2 linked regions of the Homo sapiens genome follow. The protein of the gene in region 1 interacts with the protein of each later gene in a pairwise test. Each region holds a gene or a part of one and is shown in the gene's direction. Other genes may lie near its edges.

Region 1 (7,025 bases):
TTTCTCTCTGTTGCCCAGGCTGGAGCGTCGCAATCACAGCTCACTGCAACCTCGACCTCCTGGGCTTAATGCGATCCTCCCACCTCAGGCTCCTGGGTAGCTGGGACTACAGGCACACGCCATGCTAACTTTAGTTTTTTTTGCAGAGACAGGGTTTTGCCATGTTGCCTAGGCTGGTGTCAAACTTCTGAGCTCAAGCAGTCCACCCGCCTCGGCCTCCCAAAGTGCTGGGATTACGGGCGGAGCCATGGTGCCCGGCTGTGTCCCTCCTCTTGTCTTAGAGTCCTCAGAGAGCAGAGACCTGGGGACTATGCTCCTCTGCGTTTTTCAGCCTGTGCATTTTAGGCTGCTGTCCTTTGGGGAGGCTGAATGATAAGGGCTGGCGCTCAGTCCTTCCCCAGTGAACAGTGAACGAGAGTCTGAGGGCAGGGCAGCTGCCTGGGTCTTGGCTTCTGCTGGAAACACCCCAAGGGCAGTGGGGAGAGCGCAGCCCGGGCTGGAGAAGGGACCCTGCTCCCCTGAAGGGCTCCTCGAGCTGCGCTCCATCTGCGGTTTCCTGGCAGCCCAAGCAGGGCCTGCCACAACCAGTACATGAGCCGGCTGCTGGGTTGAGTGAATGAGTGGTTGAATGAGTGAATTCTGCCTGTCAGTCCTGAGCTTAGGCAGCATGTGGGGGGTGGGGAGCAGGTGTGCAAGGGAAGATTCAGAGACCCTTGGGGAAGGAAAGCCGGGTGGTGTAGTGGGCAGAGCTGTGGCTCTGGACCAGACATATCTGAGTTCAAAGCCACTTACTTGCTGTGTACTCGGGCTAGTGACGAGCTGTCTGAAGCTCTTCTCATTAAAGTGGGAACACCAACAGCGCCTCCAGGGTGGGGGTGAGGATTAAGTGGCATAATGTGTGATATCTGAGCCTTTTAGACCCTAAGCTCTTTGAGAACATGAGGGGCTCTGTGTGAAGGACTGAAAAGAATTAACTCATTCTACAACATTCTACATGCTCTGTGCTAAATGCCAAGAAAAAAACCACACCGTGCTCCAGACCTTCCGGAGCTTAGGGTCTGGTGGGAGACAGACATTCGTCAGCCAGTCATCCAATAAACTGAAGTTTGTAGCTGTGGTAGGGGCTATCTGTGAAAGTATGTGGGGGATTTGGGAGCCCATGATGGGGGCAGGGGAGGGTCTCAGCTGGGCGGAGAGATCAGAGAAGCCTCTGCAGAGCTAAAGGACGAGGAGGGGAAACTGAGTCAAAAGCTGAGGGAGGAGCTGTGGCTGGGAAGCAGGATGCTGATGAGGGCCTGAACGTAAGAACCAGGAATCTCAGAATTCCAGGTCAGAAGCATCCTCCATCCTGCAGGCCCCACACTCTGTCCTCTCTCCCCTCCAAGAAGCTACCTGAGAAGCTGTCTCATCCTGGGGGCCTGAGAGGGGCCTCTGGGAATTGTGCTTTTAGCAAACAGCCTGTGGCTGGAGGGAATGAGGCTTCCATGAAGCGTGAGCAGGACTTCTGTGGACAGGTGGTCCCAAGGCAGAGCATCACCCCCTCCTCCTGCATGTGGGATTGGCCAGCACGATGACTCGTGCTGGCCATGGGGATGCCCTGGTCCTCAGAGCAGACACCGGACAACCCCTTCCTCCGGGCAGAGTCAGTGTCCTCTGCAGGGCTGGCATCTCAGAGACTTCCCATGGGCAGCCCACTGGGTAGGTGTGGTGTGATGGGCTTAGCAGGCCCCTCACCTGTGGCAGGTGACCCCCTCTTCCTCCCGCCTGGCCCAGATCCTGGGTGGCCCGACCCAGAACCTGGGCAAGAGGAGTCAGTGCTTTCCTACCTGGCCTCCTGTCTGTTCCACAGCCTTCTCTGTTTCCCTGCCTCCTCTGCGCCCCGAGCTAGGTTTCAGCAGGTTTGTACCCTCGCAGCATGCCCTGCCTCCTGCCAGCCCCGGCCAGCCTCCATGAGACGCCTTCAGCCTGTGTGCTTCTCTGCCCCTTGATCTCACCTCAGCCCATGTCTCTTCTGATTTGTCTCCTTGTATCAAATGCTGGCTCTGCTACTTACTAAGAGCTTTAGCAAGCCGGATCGCCTCACTGCACCTGTCTTCATCGGGAAGATGTGGGTAATAGTACTATCTCATAGGTACCTTTGTCCTCAGGATTAGATGAGATGATGTTGGCAAAGCACCGCGTTTTCCCTCCTATCTGAGGTGACTGCAGCACCCAGCAGGGAGGGGAGTTGGGCCAGGCAGGTGGGCTGTGGCAGGGTCGGGATAGGTGAATGAAGGGTTCTGGTTATTTCTTCAGTCTCCTGCCGAGGTTCCAGAAGCTGCTGGGGAAAATGCTGAAGTGTCTTCTTAGCAGAATTTGTAGCACTGAATCTGTGTCCTGTTTTTGGAAGCCCCTTGGCTTCTTGTCTCCCTCCCCTCTCTTGGGGTCTGGACCCAGGGCCTCTGGGCCAGGAGAGATTCCAGTGAGATGACACAGTGCAGTGGTAAAGGTTGTGACTAGAGGTCAGGGAGCGCCTGGTCTCTATCCATGTCCCAGAGGTGTGGCTTTGGGCAAAAACAGCTTAACTTCCCTTTTTTTTTGGATGGAGTCTCACTGTGTTGCCCAGGCTGGAGTGCAGTGGTGTGATCTCGGCTCACTGCAACCTCTGCCTCCCTGGTTCAAGGGATTCTCGTGCCTCAGCCTCCCCAGTAGCTAGGATTACAGGCGCTCGCCACCACGCCCAACTAGTTTTTGTGTTTTTAGTAGAGATGGGCGGGGCGGGGGGGGGGTTTCACCATGTTGGCCAGGCTGGTCTCGAACTCCTGACCTCAAGTGATCCGCCAGCCTTGGCCTCCCAAAGTGCTGGGATTATAGGCGTGAGCCGCTGCGCCTGGCTCATTTTATCATTTAAAAAATTGGGGCGATATGACAGGTTATTGGGAGGACTCAAAGAGATCGAGCATGGAAAGGCTGTAGCATAGCACCTGGCATGCCCTGCGCTGTGGTTTCCTGCAGTGGCTGCAGGTGGGCAGAGTGCAGGTGGGCTGTTGAGGCCTGGTCGTCTATGTTTTCCACCTTTGGCCCTTTCCCATGTCCTGCATTGCCTGCACGTGTACTCAGTCAGTAAAGCATTTGCTGATGCTGACCCATGCCAGGCCTGTCCAGCCTCAGCTCTCACTGCCCAGACCCACAGCTTAAACCTCCATACGCCCCCTGGCTCCTAACACAGCTATGTCCCATGCCACCCCCTGGTTAGTTGCAACTCCACAGACAAGTGCAGCTCCCTGGAACTATGGGAGTCCAGGGAGTCTCCAGACCCAGCCAGAGGAGGGGATGCCTGTGCATCATGGAGGGGAGCAGCAGTTGGCTCCCTGGAGAGGTGTGAGTGGAGCATTCCAGATAGAGGGAACCACAGGAGCAATGATTCACCAATTCACCGAGGCTGAGACGAGAGTGTTGGGGACCAGGGTGGCTGTGAGGATGGAGAGGCTGCAGGGACAAAAGCAGGAAAGGCGTCGTAAGCAGGTGTCCTTCTTACCATAGTGTCAAAAGCACCTGCTAGGTGCTGAGCTTGGCTGGGCTCGGGAGCCACCCATGATTCCTGAGGAGATACACCTGGTAGAGTAGCCCCAGGTAATTGGAGGCAGGTGTTCTCATGGGGATGGTGAGAGGGAGGGCTGAGGAGAGGCCTGGAGGCAGGCCCAGCATGACTGTGTGAGGAGCCAGAGGCCGTGCTGAGGTTCTAGTCTGGATGTGGGAGCTGAGGCTGGACAGGTCCTCAGGGGTCCCATGGTAAGGTTGGCGTGCTGGGAAATGAGGAAGCTTTGGGTCACAGGCCATGGGGAGGGGGATTTTGGAGCAATCTGTGCAGAATGGTCTTCAAGAGAATGAATTTGGTGTGGGGGTGAGGGGTGGATTGGATGGGGAGGGGCTCAATGTGGGGAGACTAGAGAGGGTGGCTCAGGGCAATGAAAAGAGAGCCATGTGACCTTGGATGGGGCCATTAAAACCCTGTGCTCAGCTGTCCCCTTTCTGAAATGGAGTGCTGTTGGACCTAACAAGAAGGCAGGAAGCTGTGCATGGTGGTGCATGCCTGTAATCTCAGCTATTCAAGAGGCTAAGATGTTGATCAGACTGGACAACATAGCAAGACCCCATTTCAAAAAAAAAAGGAAGGAGGCAGCAGGAGGAGGCTGGGCTAGATGACTTCTGGTGAGGCTGAGCAGAGAGAACAAGCAGCAGCCCTGGCTGCTGTTCCTGCTGCATCTCTTGGTCTTGCCTGGAGCCTGCTTCTTCCTGGGTCTTGGGTTCATTCCCTGGGGAGTGTGTGTGACTTACAGACGCACTGCGGTGGGTCCATAGGAGTCACTGAGAACACTGAAAAGCCTCTTCCTAAGCTTCTGCCACATGCCAGAGGCTTCTGGATCCAGAGGCCATATTGAGGTTGAAGTATGCAAGCTGCACCACAGCCCTGTGATGGGGGCTTTCTGTTCTCATTTGCAAATGGGGACAAGAAGGCTCAGAGGGAGCGAGTGCCTCTCACAGCAAGAGAGGGGTGGAGTCGAGATTCCAACCCAGGCCTCTCTGACTCCAAAATCACTCCATGTTTCCATCTGCTGCTGCTGTCCATGACATGGCGGAATGGAGGCGAGTGCTGGGGACGTCTAGGTAGAGAAGCGAGGAATGGGGATGGGGTAGAGGGTAGATTGCTGTCTGCAAATCTCTGAGGCCTCTGCATGGGGTGGCAGCAGTTGAGAGCCTGGGCATTGGAGCCAGACTGACCTGGAATTACATCCCAGCGGTGCCATTTACTAAGAGAGTGAGCTTGAACAATACATACACACCCTCTCTGAGCCTCAGCTTTATCATCTGTGAAACGGGAGTAGTGATAGACCCTCACAGAGTGGTTATGAGGAGTTCACGAGGCCTGATATGAGGGACTTCAGCACAGAGCTAGGCATTTGGTATGTGGTCAATAAACATCTTCTGTAATTATGACTATTTAGAAGAGGAGTCACACTTGCTTTGCATTCATTTGATTGACATTTATCGAGCCTCAGAGGAACTAGATTTTTTTTTTTTTTTTTTTTTGAGATAGTCTCGCTCTGTTGCCCAGGCTGGAGTGCAGTGACGCAATCTTGGCTCACTGCAACCTCTGCCTTCTGGGTTCAAGCAATTCTCTTGCCTCAACCTCCTGAGTAGCTGGGATTACAGGTGTGTGCCAACATACTAGGCTAATTTTTGTATTTTTAGTAGAGATGGGGTTTCACCATGATGGCCAGGCTGGTCTCCAACTCCTGGCCTCAAGTGATCCACCTGCCTCAGCCTCCCAAAGTGCTGGGATTACAGGTGTGAACTGGAACTAGAATTATTGAGTGGGTGGTATAGGGAAACTTTATCAACTCAATATTATAAATTTTCAGCTGGGTGCAGTGACTCACGCCTGTAATCCTAACACTTCGGGAGGCAAAGCAGGAGGATCACTGGAGTCCAGGAGTTCGAGACCAGCCCGAACAATATGGCAAGACCCTGTCTCTACAAAAAAATTAAAAAGTTAGCTGAGCATGGTGGCATGCACCTGTAGTCCCAGCTGCTTGGGTGGAAGGATGGCTTGAACCCAGAAACTCAAGGTGACAGTGAGCTATGATTGTACCACTGCAGTCCAGCCTGGGCAACAAAGCGAGATCCCATATCTCAAACTCCTGACCCCAGGTGATCTGCCCGCCTCTGGCCTCCCAAAGTGCTGGGATTACAGGTGTGAGCCACCGCATCTGGCCTGAGACCCCATATTTAAAAAAAAATTTTTTTTTCTTCTACAATAAAAGGTAACAAACTTATTTCAGAAAATGTGGAGAAATTTAAGCAGAGACAGACATTATCCATAATCCTACCACAGAGAAAAGAGCTTTTTCATTTTGGTGTGTTTCCTTCCCATCTCTTTTCTGTCTCTCTTTCTGTTTCTCAATTTTATTTATTTTTATTTATTCATTTTTTTTGAGACAGAGTCTTGCTCTTGTCATCCAGGCTGGAGCACAATGGCACAATCTCGGCTCACTGCAACCTCTGCCTCCCGGGTTCAAGCAGTTCTCCTCCCTCAGCCTCCCAAGTAGCTGGGATTACAGGTACCTGCCACCATGCCCGGCTAATTTTTGTATTTTTAGTAGAGATGGGGTGTCACCATCTTGGCCAGGCTGGTCTTGAACTCTTCTCTTGACCTCAGGTGATCCACCTGCCTTGGCCTCCCAAAGTTCTGGGATTACAGGCATGAGCCACCGTGCCCAGCTTATTTTTATTTTTGAGATGGGGATCTCCTTATGTTGCCCAAGCTGGTCTTGAACTCCTGGACTCAAGTGATCCTCCCACCTTGGCCTCCGAAAGTGCTGGGATTACAGTCATGAGCCGACACACCCAGCTTTGTTTTTCCATTTTAGTGAAATCAGGGTCACATGTCGAAGTCATGATCGCATTGCATGTAATATTTTGTGAGATGCCTATTCACTTAACATTATATGTTAAGCATGTGCTCTTCTAGTTTGAAAACATGATTTTTGATGGCTACATTGCATGAATGTGTTCTTTTTCCAGTGACTTTTATAATTTCCAATATTATGCCAATCTAAATAATGCTGCTGCTGCCCGGGCATGGTGGCTCACCCCCATAATTCCAGCACTTTGGGAGGCCATGGTGGGAGGATCACTTGAGCCCAGGAATTCAAGATCAGCACAGGCAACATAGCAAGACCCTGTCTCTAAAAACAAAAAAATAGTAATCATACATAATGCTGTGAACATTCTTAGACATGTGTGTTTGCGCACATCTCATTATTTCTTTCTTTTTTTTTTTTGAGATGGAGTTTTGCTCTTGTTGCCCAGGCTGGAGTGCAATGGCGCAATCTCGGCTCACCACAACCTCCGCCTCCTGGGTTCAAGCGATTCTCCTGCCTCAGCCTCCCGAGTAGCTGGGATTACGGGCATGCGCCACCATGCCCGGCTAACTTTGTATTTTTAGTAGAGATGGGGTTTCTCCATGTTGGTCATGCTGGTCT
Region 2 (6,923 bases), on another chromosome or scaffold:
ATAGCCAGGTTTGTTATAATTCTATGTTAAATAAGAGTTAATAGATGAAGTCCTCTGCTAGGGGTCGAGCGTCTGGGTCCTAATAAGGATTCCTCATTAGCTCAGAGATCTTTCTGTCTTCTCCTAAGTTTACAGCTGAGCTCAGCAAGCAAAAGCTGCAACAAGTCTGATCTTTGAATGAGTGAGGATTTATTGGGCTAAATTTGATTCTGAAATGGGTATTTAACAGTTGTCATTTGATAATGATGAGGTCTGGACTCCTTCAAAATCTTTGAGCAAATAAGCTTTGCATAGCAGTGCTAGCCGCATGATCTTTTTGGAGAAATACTAGGACACTGGAAGAAGGTATTCATCATCAGAGAAAAACACAGCTTTGCATCCTGATATTCTCAGGCTCAGAAGATTAGTAAGTCTCAGTTTCTCTTTCTCATTCCCTGACCATTCTGCTCTTTTACCTCCTCCAAATGCAGATTCTGATATATGCTTTTTTTGTTCAATCTTTCTTTTTCTAAATGTACATATTCTCTCTGACATGGTCACTCTGCTTGTCTCTGTCTTTCTTTCTTTTATTTTAGTTGGTATCTCTGCTGCTGTATATTTGGGCCCAATTCCAAATATCTCTGTATCTGTTTTTTGATGCATCTCCAAGACTCTTCTGCTTGACTTTTGCTCTATCTCTGCTGACCCACACTCTAACACTCACTGTCTGTCAGTCTTCTCTGGGTATCATTGTCTAAGTAAAACACAAGTCAGTGTACAGACAGCGTTGGGATCGGCCAGAGGCAGATAAACATGGTAGCCTATCTTCACAGTTTGTACTTTTCCTAGATGTCAGATGGGGAGTGGATTAGCAATGGCCTCAGTCCCTAGACACTGTGCAATACCCTGATAGTCAGTCTTGTATCCCGCCCCGAGGCTCCACTCCCTTGACAATGGATCTGAAAGCTTTCTTGTACTCAGAATCATCAGATGGAAAGGCCCACCCTTGTAGTCCCTGACCACCATGTTATGTAGATGGCTGCTCCCAGTAGTAAGAAATCCATGAATGGGAAGATGGTTCCCAGGAACATTCACCCAGCAACAAAAAAATTAAACACAAATTGGGGCTTGAATTTTTGTGGCAATCAATGACTGAAAAAAAAATAGAAAAAAGAAGGACATGACCTTTTTAAAGACAAATGAAGACTCATTTTCAGTAACTAGAGTCTTAAAAACTATTTTAATCTGAATGCAGATCATTGTTTACCCACAGAGAGTTTTATGACAATGATTTCACTGACATGCAGAATCAAATATTATGATCACCACCAGCAGCCAAAAAACCCTATTCTTTGCCCAAGGAGTAGTAGAAATGTAGACTAGACAGACAAACAGGGTCTCCTATTTTGCCTCATTAGTGCCACACTCTATACAACTACAGTCACGAAGGGGTCACATTTGGTTATAATTACTATTAGAATAATATGGGAGTGTGATGTTTGTGGTGGAAACTTGCCCATGACTTATGTAACCATTTCTGCTGACAAATTTTAGGATCTAAAAACTTTGTGGGTTTTTTTGTTTTGTTTTTGTTTGTTTGTTTTTGGGACAGTCTCGCTCTGTCACCCAGGCTGGAGTGCAGTGGCACCTCCGCCTACAGTGTTCAAACGATTCTCCCACCTCAGCCTCCCAAGTAGCTGGGACCACAGGCACACGTCACCATGCCCTGCTAATTTTTTTGTATTTTTAGCAGAGATGGGGTTTCACCATGTTGGCCAGGCTGGTCTCAAACTCCTGACCTCAAGTGGTCCACCTGCCTCAGCCTCCCAAAATGCTAGGATTACAGGCGTGAGCCACCGTGCCTGGCCCAGGATCTAAAAACTTTCTAAGTTTCCTCCATCGTTGGCATCCTCACAGCTATCTCCAATGTCACTCAAGAGACATCAACAGACATTTAACTGCTGCAGACTTCATTGCTCTGTCACCTCACCTTGAATCTAACAAATCAAAGTATTTCTGCAGGTCCAATGGTCTAAAATCAAATGCTTGTTAAATGACTTTTTACAACACCCCTTACTTTCCTAATCCATTTCAATCTTATTTTTTTTATTGTGGTAAAAAACACATCAGGTAAAATGTACCATCTTAACCATTTTTAAGCATATGGTACAGCAGTGTTAACTCCATGCATGTTGTGAAACAGACCCCCGGAACTTTCTCATCTTGTAATTCTGAAGTTCTATACCCACCGAACAACTCCTCTTTTCCCCTTCCCCCTGCCTGCCCCAGCTCTTGGCACCATTATTCTGCTTTCTGTTTTTGAGAGTCTGACTACTTAAGATACCTCATACAAGCGGGATCTGGCTTACATTTCTTGAGCATTGTATTCTGGAAAAGTGTTTCCTTCCTCTGAAAAATGGGTAGAGTTCTGAAGGAGAACTACTGGTCTTATTGTACACTTGCTGTACCTATTTTTATTTAACAAATATTCATCTATGGTATAATAAAGATGTCATGATTGAGTTGCTCACTGGAATCTTTGTTATCTCAGAGTATCTCACCGAGGAATTTGGAATGGTTCATGGGTTTAACAGTGGATGTTGACTTCCACAGCTGCTTATAATTATTCGCTGTCTTTAATGTTTGCGACCAAAACATCACACACGTGGTATTGTTCATTCTGAGTTTCAAAATCATAACCAAAAAAAAATGAGGCCAGAATGTAGTAAATACAGTAGCCAGTCTTTAACATGCATTTAAAGAGTTGAGTCATCCTAGCCCATCCTACGATGGCAAGATAATTTCAAAGGGGACCTCAGCTGTCCACAGTTGCACCTGCCTTAAAAGTCAAGAAGAATTTGTTTTTTGGGTCACTTCCCTGGTCACTTTAGCCTGGGGATCATTTCCAAGTAGTATAGTTGCAGATCTTCGAACGCCATTCCTGTGTTCTGTGAATTCAAGACAACATGGGTTTTATAACCCTTTGACTCTGCTCAGCATCTCCCAGATCAAGGTAAGGTAATGTTGCCAAGAACCACTACTTACAGAATGTTTGGGCTTTTGCTTTTGCTTTTCTTCCTTGCCCCAAATCCACATGTCCGTTCTGAGAAAAGAAGCTAACAACTTCTTCCAATCTGTAAACAGGAGAAATTCCAGAGTTCAACTGCAGCTAAGACCTTGTCCCTGAACTTGTCAACTTCTTCCCTGCCCTCCCACCTCCTCCTTTCGTACCAGCCAAAGAAGGTCTTCGGTTTCCTTTTTGGAGAGCCCCAGAGAGAAGCATTTGAGCACCTACTTTAGCCAGAGAGACCACTGACATCTGGGCATGAGACTGGCATCTAGACTTTGCCAGGGAGGCAGCTATACTTCCCAAAAGATCTGGGGTCTTTCTCACGAGCTCATACCCTCTGCTGGCCTAGACCCTTTATATTCCCCCCTCGGTGCTGAGGCAAACGATCTTTGCCAGCAGGGAGGTCTGAAAGGCTTAACTTTGTACACTCTGAGGCAAATTCTCCAGAAGTAATGTTGCATTTTCTCCCTGCCACCAGGCACATTCCCTTCCCAAGGTCTAGATCAGCAGGTGGCCCTCCCAGCGAAAGCTCTGTGTCCTATGATCCGAAACAATAAAGCTGTGCTTGGGTACGTGAGATTATGTTTACGATGATGGTCATCACTCCAGCCCTAGGAAGTTTGAGAAACTGAAAAATAAGCTTAGCAGGCTGCCTAGGTTCTGCGGAATCAGCAGGCCCCCGCTGTGACCAATCAAGAGCGGCCGCGGGGAGAGAAATTGACTCATTCTTTTCAATTTGCTGATTGGCTTTGAGAAGTGGGCGGAGCTACTGTCTCTGTCCCGGCTTCCCATTGGTGGATGAAAGTTAAAGGTGGGCCTCCAGCAAGTTTTGTCCTTTGATAAAAAGGAATGTCTTGGGGACTTTTCTTTTCTGCTTTGCAGGCCCAGGCTCAAGGCAAATTATAAGTAGGGAACCAATTTGAGGGAAAGACATGTGAACAGAGTTAAGGTACCACGTCCTGGGAGCGACCAGCAGCCCCACCTGAAGTCCGCATGCAACTCTGACAAGCTCAGGTGCTTGTTTTAAGGAAAGGGGCTACTAGAGTCTTACCAACAGCGAGCCCAGGTGGGAGATGAAACAGGTACTCCCCAAAATAGGTCATCCGAGGGAGGAAAACTGATGGAGAGCACAATGTGCTCTGAGCGTTTTTAATGTTTTTAAGCTTTTAAATGATTTCTTCAAGGCCGAGCAGCAGCAGCAAAGGTGTGGCTTAAAGGATTAAGGGGGTTTCTGCTGACACCTAGAATGAAGTTACTCTATTACTAATCAAGCCGAGAGGAGGCCCACTATGCCCCCGTTTATCATCCTTTCCCAGTTCCTTTTTGCTGGTCACAAAACGATGCTCATCAATCCCACCTAAAGCAGGAGGCCAGGAGCCCAGCCTCTTGTAGAAACAGCGAGGGTATAACTGCCCTCCCGTTCTGCCCCCAAGACGAAGGAGGACTCTCGGAAGCCAAGAAAGGTTTAAGAAGTCTTTCTGGATAGAGAGCAGTGCCCAGGCAGGAAGCCTTTCGCCGGCAGAGCGGGGTCCAAGGACGAGCTGGAGAGGACAGAGGCGCGATGGGCCTGCTGCAGGGCCTGCTCCGAGTCCGGAAGCTGCTGCTGGTCGTCTGCGTCCCGCTCCTGCTGCTGCCTCTGCCCGTCCTCCACCCCAGCAGCGTGAGTACCGACCTGCGCCCACCGGGGGTCTGGGAGTCAGTGGGAGGGCAAAGAGGGGAGGTCGGTAGGGGAACATGGGGCGCTCAGGCAGTCCCTCAAAGTGGCTTGTGGTGGGTTTAAAGAAATGGAAGGATTTTTCCAGAGGAAACCAAGATATCTTCTTCCTAAAAGCTGTCATGTTCATCTCCTATCCCAGTCCCATTCCCCCAACCCCATGGCCCCCACCGGGGTCAGGACAGAGTAGGGGCCTTGGCAGAAGTGACTGATGGGTGTTGCACCAAGCAGCAGGCCAGCCTGCCCCAGCAGCGGGGGCCAGCGACACCCATGCAAACGACATGGTGCACCTGTGTTTGTCGGGAGTTCACCTGGGACCCTGGTTATCTGAGAGCCCCTGGAGACACAGAAAGAGCTCCCAATAGTGGCACTGAGGAGAAGGTTGGGGGAGGAAGAGAACCGTGGAGCCAATCCGTGGTCTGTGGTCGTGTCCTGGTGGGCTTCGATGACCACAGTTGAAGCTCTAATCCCGAAGGCGCCTATCAACTTCAGGGAATGAATGTTTAGGGAAGGAATGAAAGCAGAACTTAGCAGGCTGCCCTGCTCCCATGCACGTGGCCTTGAATTATTTGTGTCTTCTGTGTTTTCTTCTCTGTCCTCTTGAAGGACAGACAAAAAGTGACACGATAAAAAAGAGATAAGAGCCCCCAAACTCTAGCCCGTGACCTCATTCTTCACCTGGTTTGTGAGAACAGAGGAACCTCAGCTCTGGCTCAGCATCCAGCTTGCCTGTCACACCCTCCTGGTGGTCACCTGCTTCCCTTCCCTTCCCTCCGCTGTTCTCTTCCTCCTGTCTGTGGCTTGTCCCCTTCCCCCAGCTGGCACTGCCCTGGAGACTTTAGGAAAAATAAGCTAAAACAGGTTAATCACGTTTGTAGGAGGGGGAGCAATTCTTCCACTCTGCTCCTTAAGTAACTTGGTAACCAAGATTAAGTTAAACAGTTAAACAGAGGGGATTAGGATGGTTCTTCTTAAAAACAAACTGGCTTAAATCTTTCATAGAATAAATACTCCAGAGTGCCAGGGAGACGCTGATTAAAACTGGGCTGGGATTAGCAGACAGTGATTGCTGCTGACATTCTTCCTGGACTGTACCCTAGTCAATTTTCTGCTTTGTCCAAATGGGCCTGATTTTTTTTCTTTTTGTGGCTTTTCTTGTTTTTGTTTTTTCTCCATGTAGGTTGCTATAAGGGACTGTTACCGAGAGACATACTAGCCTCCTCTCCCAAGCAGTATCAGGAACCTCTCATATCTCCTGGTTGAGGCAGCCCCATCTTTGGGGACCTTGGCCACTGCCCACAGAAGGCACAGACTAGGTGCCCAGCAGGTAGAGTTTCATCCATCCGTCACCCCTTTCATCAAACTTTTTTTTGTAGACGCAGAGTCTCACTCTGTCACCCAGTCCGGAGTGCGGTGGCACAATCGTAGCTCACTGCAGCCTTGAGCTCCTGGGGTTAAGCAATCCTCGTGCCTCAGCCTCTGGAGTAGCTGGGACTACAGGCAAGCAAGTACCACCACATGCAGCTAATTTTTAAAAAAATTTTTTTTGTAGAAATGGGGGTTTCACTATGTTGCCCAGGCTGGTCTCAAACTCATGGTCTGACGTGATCCTCCCAAAGTGTTGAGATTACAGGTGTGAGCCACCGTGCCTGGCCTGCATCAAACTTTTAGAGTCTGATATTTAACCCTTAAAATTCCAAATGGATTTTCTTGCTCTGGACTGGAGTTGAGAGCAGTGATGGAGTACCTGGGCAGGAGCTCCTGGCCTGCAGTTTTGATGGTTCTAAGCGACAAGCCTCAGCTACATTTTAGGAGGAGTCAAAATGACCTTCCCCCTTTTTCTTGCCCAACTCTCTAAAACTAGAGGTCCAGACACTGTTTATCATGTTATAGAAGAAGAGGGTACAAGAGACAGCATCCATAACTAAGCCCTTCCTCAGTGCCCCCAGTGGGATAAAAGTTGCATCTCAACTGCCCAAGCTAAATTTTTTAAAAGGCGCCCCCAGTCATTGATGATAACAGATAACAGACTTCAACCTCCTTCCCGTGAAGTTGGAGTGGGATATCACTGGGGTGGTCAAACTGCGTGGAAAACGAGCAGTTCCACGCCTAAGTGAGTAGCTGACTAGGAAACGTCCTACATGGGGAAATGCCACTTTC

What was found. The genes of interacting proteins can lie anywhere in the genome.
Region 2: the proteins of OPRD1 (region 1) and SLC13A4 interact in binary tests that used the Homo sapiens proteins (3 or more experiments, as listed by UniProt).

What each region holds. Positions count from the first base shown.
Region 1 is NC_000001.11:28,815,145-28,822,169, forward strand, and holds part of OPRD1 (delta-type opioid receptor), read left to right. Parts: intron 1-7,025. UniProt on the Homo sapiens protein: G-protein coupled receptor that functions as a receptor for endogenous enkephalins and for a subset of other opioids.
Region 2 is NC_000007.14:135,725,184-135,732,106, reverse strand, and holds the start of SLC13A4 (solute carrier family 13 member 4), read left to right. Parts: upstream 1-3,920; 5' UTR 3,921-4,610; coding exon 4,611-4,709; intron 4,710-6,923. UniProt on the Homo sapiens protein: Sodium:sulfate symporter that mediates sulfate reabsorption in the high endothelial venules (HEV).